Linked DNA regions of Homo sapiens: region 2 is linked to region 1. The links come from fine-mapping of genetic effects on gene expression. Tissue or cell type: whole blood. Region 1 holds a variant in brackets; the other region holds the start of a gene. All regions are shown on one strand. Distances are from middle to middle.

Region 1 (8,107 bases):
GTCTTAGTCCTTTTGTGTTGCCATAAAAGAATACCTGAGGCTGAGTAATTGATAAAGAAAAGAGGTTTATTTGGCTCATGGTTCTGCAGGCTATACAAGAAGCACAGTGCCATCTACTTCTGGCAATGAACCTCAAGAAACTTTCACTCATGGCAGAAGATGAAGGGGAGCAGGCATCACATGGCCAGAGAGAAAGAAAGGGAGAGAGAGGAGGAGGTGCCAGGCTCTTTTCAACAACCAGAGCTCATGGGAACTAAGAGTGAGCAGTCACTCAATTCTGCAAGAATGACACCAAGTCATTCATGAAGGATCTGCTTCCATGAACCAAACATCTCCCACTAGGCCCACCTCCAACTGTGAGGATCAAATTTTAACATGCGATTTAGAGAGGACAAATATCCACACTGTATCAGTGTGTTTACTGGAGTAGCACTTTTTTTTTTTTTTTTTTTTTTTTGAGACGGAGTCTTGCTCTGTCACCCAGGCTGGAGTGCAATGGCGCAATCTCAGCTCACTGCAACCTCTGCCTCCCGGGTTAAAGTGATTCTCCTGTCTCAGCCTCCTGAGTAGCTGGGACTACAGGCGCCTGCCACCACGCCTGGCTAATTTTTGTATTTTTAGTAGAGATGGGGTTTCACCATACTGGTCAGCCTAGTCTTGAACTCCTGACCTCAGGTGATCCACCCACCTTGGCCTCCCAAAGTGCTGGGATTACAGGCGTGAGCCACCGTGCCTGGCCTGGAGTAGCACTTTTAATTTCCTTCAAGAACGCTTCCTTTCTATTCCCAGCTTGGCTAATTGGAGTAAGAGGCCCAATTTTTGGCCGATCTCAGATTTCAACATGCCTTTCTTACTAAGCTTAGTCATTTCCATCTTTTGAGTTAAAATGAGAGAAGTGCGACTCTTCGCTTTTTTTTATTTGAGATGGAAGTCTCATTCTGTCACCTAGGCTGGAGTGCAGTGGCGTGATGTTGGCTCACTACAACCTCTGCCTCCCAGGTTCAGGTGATTCTCCTGCCTCAGCCTTCCAAGTAGCTGGGACTACAGGCATGAGCCATCACGTCCAGCTAATTTTTGTATTTTCAGTAGAGATGGGGTTTCGCCATGTTGGCCAGGCTGGTCTTGAACTCCTGACTTCAGGTGATCCACCCAGTTTGGCCTCCCAAAGTGCTGGGATTACAGGCGTGAGCCACTATGCCCAGCCTGACTCTTCCTTTCATTTGAAAACTTAGAGGCCATTGTAAGGTTATTAACTGGCTTAATGTGAATATTGTTGTGTCTCAGGAAATAGGGAGGCCCAAGGAGAGGAAGTGGGGTCAGCCAGTTAGTGGAAAAGTCAGAACGTACACATGTATCATTTAAGTTCACTGACTTATTATGGGAGTGGTTTGTGGCACCCCAAACACTGCAATAGTAACATCAAAGATCTCCGATCACAGATCACCATAACAGATATCATAGTAATGAAAATGTTTGAAATATTGCTAGTATTGCCGAAATGTGACACAGGGACACAAAGTGAGCGTGTGCTGTCAGAAAAATGACGCTGATAGACTTGCTCAATGCAGGGTTACCACAAACCTTCAATTTGTAAAAAACTAAAATATCTGCGAAGAGCAATAAAGTAAGTGCAATAAAGTGAGATGTGCCTGTAGTTAGCCAATTTCCGGCCATCTTCGGTGACTGGGAATCCACTCCCTACTGGACAGTGTCTTTACACAGCTGTAATCATTGTAAAGTTTTCCCTTTCTTCTTTATTTTGATTATTTATTATTTTTAATTTTTTTTCTCAGACCTCACAGGGAAGAGTTTTTCCTTTCTTAGAAAGGAATGCTTAAGTGAATGATGACACATTCTCATGATGAATTCTTAATGCAGCCATTAAAATGTTAATTAAGAATTTCAAACGGCATGAGAATAATTAGGTAAAAACAAAGACATGAAATTGCATGTATAATATTTCAACTATATTTTAACAATACACAAAAACAAATTATTTAAAAATATTAATGGCTTTTGCCTCTGGGTGGTGGGATCACAGGGGATTGTTTTTTGCCTGTTTATACTTTTTGTGGTTAAAAGAAATTTCATGGGGATATCTTACTTTATAATTATAGGAACTGGGGAAAACATTTTCCTTTCATAAATATGGAATTTCTTCTCTGATTTATACCTGTTGGTTCTCAATATAGGCTCCGAGGGTAACTCAGAACAAATCCTTTTGTTCTCCCATATAATAGCCTTTCAAAAAGTTTAAAGGCAGATTACGTGTTTAAGCACGGCTGTTTATAGATGGGCAAACAGAAATTGTTTTCTTTTTAAAAATTTAGACAGTAAAAATCTGAAACAGTCAGGATGTTTCCATTTCTGTGAGAATGGTACTGTACTGTTATGTAAATACTATGTTTTCCCTCTTCTCTTCCAAAATAAACCATCGAAAGAAAACAAATTTATCACCCTAGGCTTGGTGGTTTTATTGAATTCAACATTTTATGAAACTGGATTTAGTAAAATCAGTTTGAGTTTTCTGAGAGTGTCCCTGAGGTCCTTGGTAAACTTGCACTCTTGGTTTAAGGGAATGATCAGGACAAAAAGAGGAACTCCTGGGAAGGATGGGAGCATTGGGCAAATCAGGTGGGTTGTGGAGAGCCTGGAGGGACTTTAACATGGGACAGTACTCAGATTCCCCTGCTCTCTTGTACATTGACACTGACCTTATTTAGAGTCACCATATTAAAGAGATGTTGACCTCTCCAATGCAAAAATGGTATTACTCTATAACTATGTAGTGTAGAGTCAGCATCCCTGGAGTTTAGGGCATAGGTAACCAATCTTCAACAGAAAGCTGAAAAAAGTTTGAAAAAGCATATATCTGTACATGAATTCCCTGTAATACCTCAATGTTACCTACCAAGATTATCTCACTGTCTAATCTTAAGTCAACTCAAAATGGTGAAAGAATTTTTCTGGGGAATGACTCTTTGTAGATTTTTACAGTACTTTTTGTCTTAATTCTTTTTCCTACTAAACTTTGAAACTCTTAGCAATAGTTTTGGGGTAAGTAAATGTTATCCATAAATTTTTATTGATTAACCTGATAAAAGAATTATATAAAAATTAAAAATACCAATCGAAAAATTTAATTCAATAATGAAAGTAGATTATTTCAAACAGAGGCAAATACAGCTATCAATTACATATTTTAAATGGGATTTTTACAAATAATCTGGAAGTTGGTATCATAAACAGTTATGCTGCTTAGGCAGAGCAGTAGATGTGAACACTTCCTTGCATCTGAAACAAGGCTTATTCTTGATCTGTTTCTTTGTTTCCAGATGGTCTCCCAGCTTGAAGCCCAAATATCTGAGCTTGTTGAACAGTTGGGAAAGGAGTCTGGGTTTCACCAGAAAGCTCTCCAGAGGGCCCAGAAAGCAGAGAATATGTTGGAGACTCTTCAGGGTCAGCTGACACACCTGGAGGCAGAGCTGGTTTCTGGAGGTGTTTTGCGAGACAACTTGAATTTTGAGAAACAAAAAGTAATGACCCGAGGGCATGTCCATGAGTGGAAGCATCTGTTGTAGTATAAAATTTTACCTGAAAATATCCTGAATTTTACAGTATTTAGTTTGGTTAAGTCCTGGACTTAATTGGTTAAGTCAATTTCAAGGAACAATGGGTTTGGAGCTTCCTTGATTCAAATTAATTTAATTAAACTCAACGAGTATTTATTGAATGCCTACCATATATGAGGTCCTAAAGGTTTGGCAAGCTAAAATATGAATAATACACAGTTCCTGATCTTAAAGGCTCATAATTCAATAGGGGAGACAGATACTCAGATAATTTGCTGTACTATAAGTTTACACATGTTATATGTATTGAATTAATAAAGTGCTGTAGGAACTTCCAGATAAAGGGAAGATTTTATAGGAGAGGAGATAATTAAGTTCATTTTTGAAAGATAAGTCAGATTATAGTGGAGACAGGAGACAGATACTGTAGGGGAAACAGTTTGAAGAAAGGCATGAAATCTGGCAAGTGCATAGTATATTCAGAGGA[C/T]GCAAAATGGTGAATCCTCCATGGCTGGAACATGTTATTCTCGGTGGATCTGTGGCAAGAGAAAAGACTGGAATGGCTTAGACTATGAAGATGGAGTGTTCTTTACTCTGTAGAATATGAAGTGTGGTAAGTGTGAGCATTGCAGTATTTTATTTTATTTTATGTTTATGTTTATTATTTCTATTTTTTTGAGACAGAGTCTCGCTCTGTTGCCCAGGCTGGAGTGCAGTGGCGTGATCTCGACTCACTGCAACCTCTGCCTCCTGGGTTCACACCATTCTCCTGCCTCAGCCTCCCAAGTAGCTGAGATTACAGGCGCCCGCCACCACGCCCGGCTAATTTTTTGTATTTTTAGTAGAGACGGGGTATCACTGTGTTAGCTGGGGTGGTCTCGATCTCCTGACCTCATGATCTGCCCGCCTCGGCCTCCCAAAGTGCTGGGATTACAGGTGTGAGCCACCGTGCCAGGCCACATTGCAGTATTTTAGAAAGATAGCGTGATGTCCCCGTGGAGCTGAGATTGTGGCATGGAGGGTCTCGGAAACAATGGCACTGATAACCCAGTGGGAGAGGAGAGTTAGACGGGAAGAGAAGGAGCCCGCACTGAGGATTCGAATGTGGGGAGACTGTCAGTGATCTTTGAGAGGCAGTTTTGGTGGAGCGGTGGAGAGCAAAAGCCAGTTTGTTTGTGCTGAGGGGATCCTTGAGAGGAAGGGGAGCGACCTTCTAGTAGACCAGTGTGAAGTCTGGTGACCAAAGAGAAGAGAGGCATGAGGCAGTGGCTGTGAAAAACAAGATCAAAGAAAGGTTTTGCTGGACAGGATGGCGGGGAAAGTATGGACTGAAAGAGTCTGCAGGAGGGAGTGTGGGAAGGGAAAGGGAGGCACACAGGCCCAAGAGCCTCGATGCCAAATTTGGCATGAAAAATGCCCTAAAGTTGAAACATGTACACTCAAGTAACATATTCCTTTTCATTCTTCTGTACTTAAAACATTGAGGAATCATCATGCCTGCATTGAGGTTGGATATGCAAAGATGTGCCAAAGGTGTCTGTGGAAAATCAAGTCTAGCAGATGAGACAGGGAGATCGGGGCGTAATAGTACAATAGTGCAATTAGTGCGCTTAGTGCAATAGTACAATGGTGCAATAGTGCAATTAGTGCAAATAGTACAATTAGTGCCATGATGGAGACAGGTATAAAATTTAACAGAAACCTGGAAAAAGGAGCAATGACTTTTTTTCTGTGTGGTAAGTGAGCCATCTTCACAGAAGAGGGGAGCATTAAAGAATGAGTAGGAATTTGTCAGGCAGAAGAGGTGGGAAGGAATTTGAGGCAGAAAGAATAGCAGGAACAAAGAAGAAATGGAGGTGTGAAAAGAAGGCTCAGGAAATGAATGAGGTGCAGGGAGCCTGGGACATGATACTTGGCGAAACCAAAGGTGTGAGATGGCACTGGAGGCAGCTATAGGAATGATCGAGATGGGTCAGTCTAATGACTCAGGCTTCACTGCGTAGGTAATGGGAAGCCAGAGAAGGTTTTTGAGTAAAAGAAAGATTTCCCTCAAGTCAGACTCGCTTAGAGGGTAGCAGGGGTGTCCAACCTTTTGGCTTCCCTGGGCCACATTGGAAGAAGAAGAATTGTCTTGGGCCACACGTAAAATACACTAACAGTAGTGATAGCTGATAAGCTAAAACAAACAAACAACAACAAAAACACACACACACACAAAACAAACAAAAAACAACCATGCATAATTTTTGAGGTATCTGCCACCACAGATAAGCAAAAAGTCCTCGCCTTCCAAGGGTTGGACACAGCTGAGGGAAGGTAGGGAGCCCAGTTGGTGGCTCCCTGACTGGTCCAGTTAGATAGTCCAGTTCAGACTAGCCCAGTTCAGAAGATAATAAAGATCTGAACCAAGTAGTGGTTTTGTGAATGGAAATAGGGGATAGATTTGAGAAGTCTGGGAGAGTGAAGGGAGCTTTTTCTGTTAGATGTCTGTAAAGGTGTGATGGTGGAAAATTTGATTTTGTAAAGAAATATTGGCTGGGTTTGGTGGCTCACACCTATAATCCCAGCACTTTGGGATGTTGAGGCAGGTGGATCGCTTGAGCTCTGGAGTTCAAGACCAGCCTGGGCAACATGGTGAAACCCCATCTCTACAAAAAACACAAAATTTAGCTGGGCATGGTGGCACACACTTGTGATCCCAGCTACCTGGGAGGCTGAGATGGGAGGATAGCTTGAGCCTGGGAGGTGGAGGTTGCAGTGAGCTGAGATCATACCACTTCAGCCTAGGTGACAGAGTGAGACCCCGTCTCAAAACAAACAAACAAACAAACAAAAAACCAAAAACAGGCCAGATGTGGTGGCTCATGCCTATAATCTCAGCACTTTAGGAGGCTGAGGTGGGTGGATCACTTGAGGTCAGAAGTTCAAGAACAGCCTGGCCAACATGGTGAAACTCCATCTCTACTAAAAATACAAAAAATTAGCCAGGTGTGGTGGTGTGTGCCTGTAATCCCAGCTACCCAGGAAGCTGAGGCAGGAGAATCGCTTGAATTTGAGAGGCAGAGGTTGCAGTGAGCCAAGATTGCGCCATTGTACTCCAGCCTGGGTGACAGAGACTCCCTCTCAAAACAAACAAACAAACAAACAAACAAACACAATAAAACAACCACGACCAAACAAAATGAAATATTGCACCTGAGTATGGTAATGTAAATTGGAAGCCATCTAACTGCCTGCTGGACAGCTTCACCTGCATGGTCCGTGAACACCAAAATACACTCAAAACTGAAATGACATCTGCTCAAATTTGTCCCTCTCCTGCTTCAGTCATGGTGGTAATCTGCCTCCATTTGCCCAAGCCATCTTCAACACTTCCCTCTTTTTAATCAATTCCTAAGCACTGTAAATCCTGTCTCCTTACTAGATCTCCAATGCCTCCCCCATCTCTATATCCAGCAGCTGTGCTTTGGCTCTGAGAATTGTGCTCATTAACACGGACTAGGGAAACAACCTACTAACTGAGCTCCCAGCATTGTTCTTTGTGCCTCAGATTTACTCTCTTCATTGCTGCCAGGGAGGTCTTAATGAAAGGTATGCCTAATCTTATCTTTCTTTATCTTAAAACTGGTCAGTGGTTCTCTGGTGCCCCCAGGATCAGGTACAGATTCCTTCTTTTTCCATGGCCCCACGTTCTGTGAGCTGGCCAGGTGGCCTCTCCATCTTCCCTCTCCCCTGCAATTTCTCCTGCCAGCAGGGGCAAACTCAGAAGCCTTCTGGGAGTGGCAGGACCCTGGTGGGGTCTGCGGTGATTACGGAGCCTAAAGACATCCATGCAGATTTGTAGCAGCACTCGTCTGGCGTCCTCCAGCTGCCTCCTACATTGCCCACTGCTATTTTCACCGAGAGAATGTTCTCCTTACCTCCTTCACCTGGCAGCAGCAATCTCTTCGAGATTCAGCTCAAATACCACTTCCTCTGGCAGTCTTCCCTAAGAGACTTACCTATCTTTCCTTTTGCTCTCCAAGCAACATGCATCTGCCTCTCTCATGGTACTTTTTACCATTATTGGATTGTTTTTAAATTTTTTCTTCTCCAAATATACCAAGCTTCTTAAGGCCAGAAAAAATCATTTTTTCCTGTATTTCTCCAGGGCCTAGAGAAAGAGTCAATAAATATTATTTGAATTATAGAAGAAATATATTAAAGGCAAGAATTTCAGGTGGATTGGTATTTCTTCCCTTCCCTTACTATAAATGAATCATTAATTTTAATTGGGATTATGTTCAAATAACTCTCAGTTATGAAAGCAAATTATGTAAGCTAACTCTGTCCGTCGTGAATTTTCCGTCGCTAACTGCATATGAAATGCACGTTCTGGTAAGGATGGATAGTATCATGTAAATTGAAAAGCAAAGTTGCACAGAGTTTAAATGCTAAATGCAGGTAATCTGGCAGACTCAAAGACAGTAGAATGCAGTTTCTTATTTATGCTGAACTGTGATTCAAATGAACAATATATACAGTAATCCTTCATT
Region 2 (8,094 bases), 92 kb before region 1:
CTCAGCCTCCCAAGCAGCTGGGACTACAGGCGCCTGCCACCACACCCGGCTAATTTTTTGTATTTTTAGTAGAGACGGGGTTTCACCGTGTTAGCCAGGATGGTCTTGATCTCCTGACCTCATGATCCGCCTGCCTTGTCCTCCCAAAGTGCTGGGATTACAGGCGTGAGCCACTGCGCCGGCTAAAAATTTTAATGTGTTTTTTAAATTGACATATGATTGTATATATTTATGGGATTCATAGTGAAGTTTTGATACAAATAATATATAGTGACCAGGATAATTAGCAGATCCATCATCTCAAACATTTATTATTTCTTTGTATTAGGAACATTCAATATCCTCCTTCTAGCTATGTGAAACTATATAATGTACTATAGTGAACAGTAGTCATCAAACAGTGGTATGGAACACTAGAACTGATTCCCCTTGTCTAGCTGTCACTTTGTATCCTTTAACAAATCCGAGCCACTTTTAGAAGGGCTAATGTCAATCATGAGGGTGGTGCCCCCATGACTTCATCATTTCCCAAAGGCCCCACTTCTTAGCACTATCACAATGGGTATTAGGTTCCAACAAATGAATTTGGGGTGGCGAGCACCAACATTTAGATCACAGCAAGTGTTTAGGAAAATACTAAAATTAAGCCTACTCTTTTAAACAACCTTTAGACAATTAAAATGTCATAGGAGTGATTTCAGTGACAAGTTTTCAATCGGAAGTCAAAAGCTCCAAAAGTTATCATATTACAAATGTTCCCGTGAGAAACATGTACATCTGTAAAACAAACAAGCAAACAAGCAAAAGGAGGAAACCAGAGTTCTAAACTTACGACACCACAAGAAAACTCCAAAACAGAGGTCTGTACGGAGGTATTGTGGGCCACACGGTGCTGCCCACACACGGGGTTTTGTGAGAGGTCTGGACTGGAACTTGTTTGTACATTTTTTCTTCCCTCCTTTGCTTAAACTGTTATCAGACCTAGAGACCGCCCCCCTCCAACTCCCAGCCTGAAATGTTCTACCACCATGGTCCCAGCTAGCCCAAATCGTCATCTCCTCCAAGGTCCAGACCTCGGGGTCCCCCCAGCTCAACTTCTTTGACGTCATCACATCATCAGATGCTGCTTGAAGAGTCACTTGGCTCATGTCTTGATATCCCAGAAATCTCAAAGGCATCTGGGGAGGGCTGAGCCAAGTACTTTTTCTGCCTCCAGTTACCACAAAATCACATTGTTTTATACAGAGAAAAATCTGTTTCATGCTGATTTTTAAAGACTGCAAATTTATATCTTCTATTCTCATGAATAAGAGCTACAAGGTTGACCAAACTGAGCAGAATTAGGCTTTATGACATGGGATTCTTAAACAATTGGATTAGAGTTAATGGAGAAGGATTTCCATCTGGTTCTCTTCCAGGTGTCTTGAGTTTTCATCAATTTTGTGTTTCCTCTGGCAGTGTTGGTTCATTGAAAATTTAACAAGTTTGGCCGGGCGCAGTGGCTCACGCCTGTAATCCCAGCACTTTGAGAGGTGGAGGCAGGTAGATCACCTGAGGTCAGGACTTCGAGACCAGCTTGGCCAACATGGTGAAACCCTGTCTCTACTAAAAATACAAAATTAGCAGGGTGTGGTGGCACATGCCTGTAATCCCAGCTAGTCGGGAGGCTGAGGCAGGAGAATCGCTTGAATCCAGGGGGCGGAGTTTGCAGTGAGCAGAGATCGCTCCATTGAACTCCAGCCTAGGTAACGAGCGAAACTCTGTTTGAAAAAAAAAAAGAAAAGAAAATTTGACAAGTTTGTAGTGGTTCTACTGCAAGGAAAAACTACAACTTAAAAATGTGTTTACTCCAAATTGTACTATTAATAGGAGATTTCTGAAAGCCTAAGTTTTCATTAAGAACTTTTTCTTTAACGGTGCATCAAGTGAAAGCCTTGAGATGATTCTGGATTAGATATATGGCAAAGTTACCGTGAGCTCAAAAGCCATTGTCCAGATGAAGAAATCCTCAGGGTCAATATGAATGCACATAGGATGACTGATGGAATCCAAGAAAAGCTGCCATAGCTCTGATTTTGCCTTTTTGTGTTGTCTTTAGAGACATGCTCTTGCTCTGTCGCCCAGGCTGGAGTGCAGTGGTGATCATAGCTCACTGCAGCCTTGACCTCCTGGGCTCAAAGCTATCCTCCTGCTTTAGCTTTCTTTTTTTTTTTTTTTTTTAAGATGGCGTCTTGCTCTGTCACCCAGGCTGGAGTACAGTGGTGCTATCTCAGCTTATTGCAACCTCCGCCTCCCAGGTTCAAGCGATTCTCCTGCCTCAGCCTCCCAAGTAGCTGGGATTACAGGCATGTGCCACCACACCTAGCTAATTTTTGTATTTTTAGTAGAGACAGGGTTTCACTATGTTGGCCAGGCTGGTCTCGAACTCCTGACCTCAGGTGATCCACCTGCCTCAGCCTCCCAAAGTACTGGGATTATAGGTATGAGCCACCTCACCTGGCCCCGCCTTAGCCTTCTGAGTAGCTAGGACTACAGGTGTGCACCACCATGCCTGGCTAATTTAAAAAAAAAAAAAAAAAACTTGTAGAGATAGAGTCTTGCTGTATTGCCCAGGCTGGTCTCAAACTCCTGGCCTCAAGCAATCCTCCCACCTGTTTGATTTCATGTGTCTCAAACAGCATAGGAGTCTACTAAAGGCTTTTTTCTTTTTTTTTTTTTTTTTTTTTGAGGCAGATTCTTGCTCTGTCACCCAGGCTGGAGTGCAGTGGCTCAATCTTGGCTCACTGCAACCTCTGCCTCCCAGGTTCAAATGATTTTCCCTGCCTCAGCCTCTCAAATAGCTGTATTACAGGTGTCCGCTACCACGCCCGGCTAATTTTTGTATTTTTAGTAGAGACAGGGTTTCACCTTCTTGGCCAGGCTGGTCTCAAACTCCTGACCTCAAGTGATCCACCCATCTCAGCCTCCCAAAAGTGTTGGGATTACAGGAGTGAGCCACCGCGCCTGGCCCACCAAAAGCTTTAAAGTGAGGTGAATGCAGATTCCATTTTCAGATTCTGCTACAAATTGTGGGACCTTAAACAAGTTACTCATCTTCTCTGTGCTTTAGTGTTATGATCTGGAGCCTGATCTTCATTCTACCACTTACCCTGTACATCTTGGAAATTTTATTTTATTTCCCTGTGACTGTTGCCTTGTCTTGCAGATGGATTATTCTAACATCCACTTCATAATCTTGTTTCATTTAAGGAGATTGATCATACGTGGGAAGCACTTAGAACAGTGCATGGACGAGCACGAGTATTTCATAATGAGCAGCTGTGGCTGTTACTAACACTGGTATTACTAGTACCCGTACTTCCAGGCAGGGTTGTTGAGAAGGTGAAATGAAAGAACGCACACCAGGGCAGGCTACATAATTTGTGGACCCCGGTACAGAATGAAAATGCAGGACACCTTGTTCAAAACTTCCTAAAAACGTCAAGACTGGGACAGCTGAGTATTAAACCAAGCGCAGGACCCGGACCTGCACAGGTTGCACGCTCGCAGACACATTTGCACACAGTGTGTGCTAAATAAATGCTCCGTTCACCCTTGTGAAGTTTCCTATGCCTCACTCGCGCCAGCACCGTTCACAGTGCCCACTGGCTGTATTTATCGCTGACATAAGGATGAGGCCTGGAATTGCATTCACTGCAGAGTCCCACCGGGAGGACCGACCGTTATCCCCGCCGACTCCCCCCAGGTCGCCCTGGCAGTTTCGGCCGCTCAGTTGCAGGCCCTCGCCACGGAGGCCACGCTCGGGGGTTCGGGGTCCACCCCGGCCTCCTGCGGCCGGGCCACCCTACTCGCGCGCAGCCGCGCGCCGCCGCGTCCCCGCGGTGTTTACCCGTTGCCCGAGGAGACACCCGCGCCACCCGCCGGCTCCCGGCGCCGCCGCTTCCTCAGGGCCGGTTCCGGGTCCGAGCGCGCCCCCGGGCTCGGGTCGTCATGAGCCTGGACTGCACCAGCCATATCGCGCTGGGTGCCGCTTCGCCAGCGCCCGAGGTACGGTCCCAGCCGCCGGCCGCGCGCGGGGGTGGCCCTGGGGATAGACGACCCAGGAGGGGCCGAGGCGCCCCTGATTTGCACCCTTTTCCTCCCGGAGGCGTGGGCAGAATCAGAGCAGCTCTGTGCCCGCGAGGGCTGTGGCCTGGGACTGCCAGGGCGCTGATTTCAGGAGGGGATGGGCAGGACCGGAGTTTGCGGAGCGCGTCTGAATTTTAGGTTGTGCCACTCTGCTTCTCTGACCATTTAAACCGGTGACATTCGAAAGACTGTGGCCGGGCAGTTCCTCCCCGCCACCCCTGGGAGCAAAGAATTCCTTCATTTAACTTTCCCTGCTTAGCTACTGAAGTGTGCTTCGGAGCAATTTCTGGAAAATCTGATGTGGCAGGAGGAGGGCCAGCCCGGAGTAGAGTCACCGGCCCTTTCGTTGCGAAGTAATCCAGAAACGTTGGTAATTCAGTTGTTCCTGAATGCATCTACTCATTTACTCCCAGGAGTTACTTAGGTACTGGGGACTTTCAGGTATTAGATGTACCAATGCGCGCGCGCACACACACACGAACATGCGCGCATACACAGACGCTCGTGCACACACGCGAACAGGCACATACGCGAACAAACACGGGCGCGCACACACACGAACACGGGCATATGCATACTTGGGCGCACAAGAAGATCTGGCTGGCTCAGTCTGGGTTAAGAATCCCCCTTTGGCCTTGGCATCGGGGCCCACCGGGTATCGTGTGTATTGGGAGTAGTTGCCAGAGATGGGGGAATTGTGTTCAGCTCAACTGCTAACCGCAAGTAACTCACCCAATTAGTAAATGATGGAGGATTTTTCTTTCTTTCCAAAGTTTTGGACTTTTCCTACCACGCTGTGTACTGACCATAGATATCCCTGGGGGATGTAGTGGATTCAAAACATGAGTTGGATTCTCCAACGTGCCATCGGAATTCTTCTAATATTCAGCAGCTTTGATTGTTGTTTTACATCTGACCTGTATTTAGATTTCTCTGATTCCTGGAATATTTGTGGAAAATAAGTACCACTGTGTGCAAATAAAACTATTTTTTCTTTCTTTCTAACTCAGAGGCCAGTTACTAGATGTTTTTTCTTTCATCTGACATTTTCATATTTGACTTTATTAATTTTTATCCCAATGTGGTGTCTTAACCATACATAAGTATGTGGTATTTTTATATTATTAATATATATTTTTTTTGGTGAGCCCATTGAGAGTAAATTACAGCCATCATGATTCTTTCTTTCTCTCTCCTTTTTTTCTCTTGTTCTCTCCCTCCCTCCTTTTCTTTCTTTCTTCTTTTTTTCAGACAGGGTCTCACCTTGTTACCCAGGCTCGAGTGCAGTGGCACGATCTCGGCTCGCCGCCGCCTTGACACCCCTGGGTTCAAACGATCCTCTCACCTCAGCCTCCAGAGTAGCTGGGACTCCAGGCATGCCATGATGCCTGGATAATTTTTGTGTTCTTTGCAGAGGCAGAGTTTTATCGTGTTGCTCAGGCTGGTCTCAAACTCCTGAGCTCAAGCGATCCACCTGCCTCAGACTCCCAAAGTGCTGGGATTACAGAGATGCACTACCATGCCTGGTCCCCTATGACCTTTCATCTGTAAATACTCTGGTGTGTTATCTCCTATGAATAAGGGCATTCTCTAACGAACATACAATGATCAAAATCGGGATGTTTAGCATTGTGACAATAATATTATCTAATATACACGACCTACTAAAACTTTGCCACTTGTCCCAATTATGCCATTTATTGCCAATTTTTTTTCCATCTCAGGATCACACACTGTATTTAGTTATGTCTCCAGTCTCTTCAAACCTGGAACAGTTCTTCACATTTTTTTTGTTTGTTTTTTTGTTTGTTTGTTTTTGTCTTTGATGATACTGACATTTTTGCAGAGTCCAGGTCATTCGTTTTATAGAGTAAGTTTCTCTGATTGTCCTTCGTGATTAGATTTTTGGGTAGGAATAACATAAGAGATGTTATGTCTCAGAGTATCACATCAGGAGGGGCATATATCAGCTTATCCCATTATTGGTGATGTCCCCAGCTGGTGGCCTCTGCCAGATTTTTCCCCTTTAGCAATAAATAAGAAATCATATTAGTTGAGTAATAATATTGATTCGGATAGAAATTTTTAGCATAAGTCACTGCCTACAAAAGGAAAATGTCCATTAAGCATGAGATTTTAATTGGCTTAAAATAACTAAATTTTATTGAGAACAAAAGTAGCTGCAGAAAAGGCAGCATTTATTACAATTAAATGTTCAGTTTGCAAAATACTTTATCTGAGATCATCTTATAATTTAGATAGGCGGGGCAGAAATTTCTCACTATATAAGATGAGGAAATAGCTTACTGGATTAGAAATGATGGAGCAGGGACTTGTATCTTTCTTTCAAAAGCTTTGTACTTTTCCTACCATGCCAGACTGAAAACATTAAATTACAAAGCAGTGATAGTCTGCAACTTTCTGGAAAAGTAAAATACTGTAGAGACTGAGATACTAGTTTTAGACTCAAAACTAGATTCAAACAATCCTGATTATACCACTCATCTGTGACATCTTGGTCAAAACAATTAATGTATCAGCATTTTAGTTTTTTCTTCTAAAACATGGAATCATAAAACTTATCGCATAACGTAGTTTGAGGATTTCACGGTTAATAAATGTAAGGCACTCAAGAGAGTGTCTGACAGAATAAGTGCATATCAATATTAGCTATCGTTATTCTTTGTAACTTTTGGAATTTGCTTTGGTGTCAACACCACTGCACCTACTCCTACCATCATCACCAATGCTTCCATCAGTACTTCAGCCACCATCTCAATAGTCAGTGTTTTGAGAATCTGTAGGAGGGACAGAGGATACAAAAATGAATTGGAGATTGACCCTGCTCATAATGAAGAATTGACAGTTTACAATCCACTTTGGGAGGCAGAGGTGTGTGGATCGCTTGAGCCCAAGAGTTTAAGACCAGACTGGGCAACATGGCAAAACCCCGTCTCTACAAAAAACACAAAAAGTACCCAGGCATGGCCTGTAGTCCTAGCTACTTGGGAGGCTGAGGTGGGAGGATCACTTGAGCCCAGGAAGTTGAGGCTGTTGTGAGCCTTGATCGCACTACTGCACCCCAGCCTGGGCAACAGAACAAGACCCTGGCTCAAAAATAAAATAAAAATTAAAAAAGAGTTTACAATCAAGAAAAACAGACACATAAAAAGATTACTCCTTCATCAACACTAAAATTTAATGCTGCACTCTTCTCAAGTTGGATTTACCTATAATGCGATCACCAGCACAGCCTTACTGGGATGGAAAATGTGACAAATACTAACAGCAATATTATGAGAATTGAAGTGGAGCAGCCCAAACATGAAGGAAAGAGATATGCTTTGGGGGAAGTTTACAAACATAGCTTTCAGTAAGACTGCATAACTTTGTCATGCATTTGAAATAACGCTACCCAGTGAAAATGTGCTGGGTGCGGTGGCTCATGCTTGTAATCCCAGCACTTTGGGAGGCTGAGGCGGGAGGCTCACTTGAGGTCAGGAGTTCGAGACCATCCTGGCTAACATGGTAAAACCCCGTCTGTACTAAAAATACAAAAAGTAGCCAGGCTTGGTGGCAGGTGCCTGTAATCCCAGTTACTGGGGAGGCTGAGGCAGGAGAATTGCCTGAACCTGGGAGGCAGAGGTTGCAGTGAGCCAAGATTGTGCCACTGAACACACCATCTCAAAAAAAAAAAAAAAAAAAAAAAGAAAAGTGACCTAATTATAAAATAGGATCACCAGTCAGCAAAAAGCTGTAGCAATAGTTCTGTGGAAAGTGCTTGGATTCCAAATCCTCTGACACCAGTGAGAAGCCACAGACATATGGTGGCTTGTAGGCTCTCTTGCTGTGGCAGTGTTTTCACATACCTGGAAAACCTAGATCAAAGTTACAGCTCCAGTAGATACCATTGTTGGGAATTTGAGCATCTCTTTCCTTTCTGTAAAACAAGGGTTAATTAGAATA

What was found. PIP is the estimated chance that this variant, and not a neighbour inherited with it, causes the effect.
Region 2: CCDC170 starts here. The variant in region 1 is fine-mapped to the expression of CCDC170 in whole blood (TOPMed, PIP 0.93).

The regions. Positions count from the first base shown.
Region 1 is chr6:151,582,554-151,590,660 of GRCh38, forward strand. It overlaps CCDC170 (coiled-coil domain containing 170), which reads left to right. Exons shown (of 11, transcript NM_025059.4): 7 at 3,336-3,536. Among named protein-coding and RNA genes, the nearest start is that of CCDC170, 93 kb to the left of the region's middle. The variant C/T (reference allele first, on the strand shown) is at 4,060.
Region 2 is chr6:151,490,139-151,498,232 of GRCh38, forward strand. CCDC170 (coiled-coil domain containing 170) reads left to right here and starts at 3,879. Exons shown (of 11, transcript NM_025059.4): 1 at 3,879-4,047. The coding sequence starts at 3,991. It overlaps LOC124901436 (a long non-coding RNA gene), which reads right to left and starts at 8,068. Exons shown (of 2, transcript XR_007059817.1): 1 at 7,998-8,068; 2 at 6,269-6,926.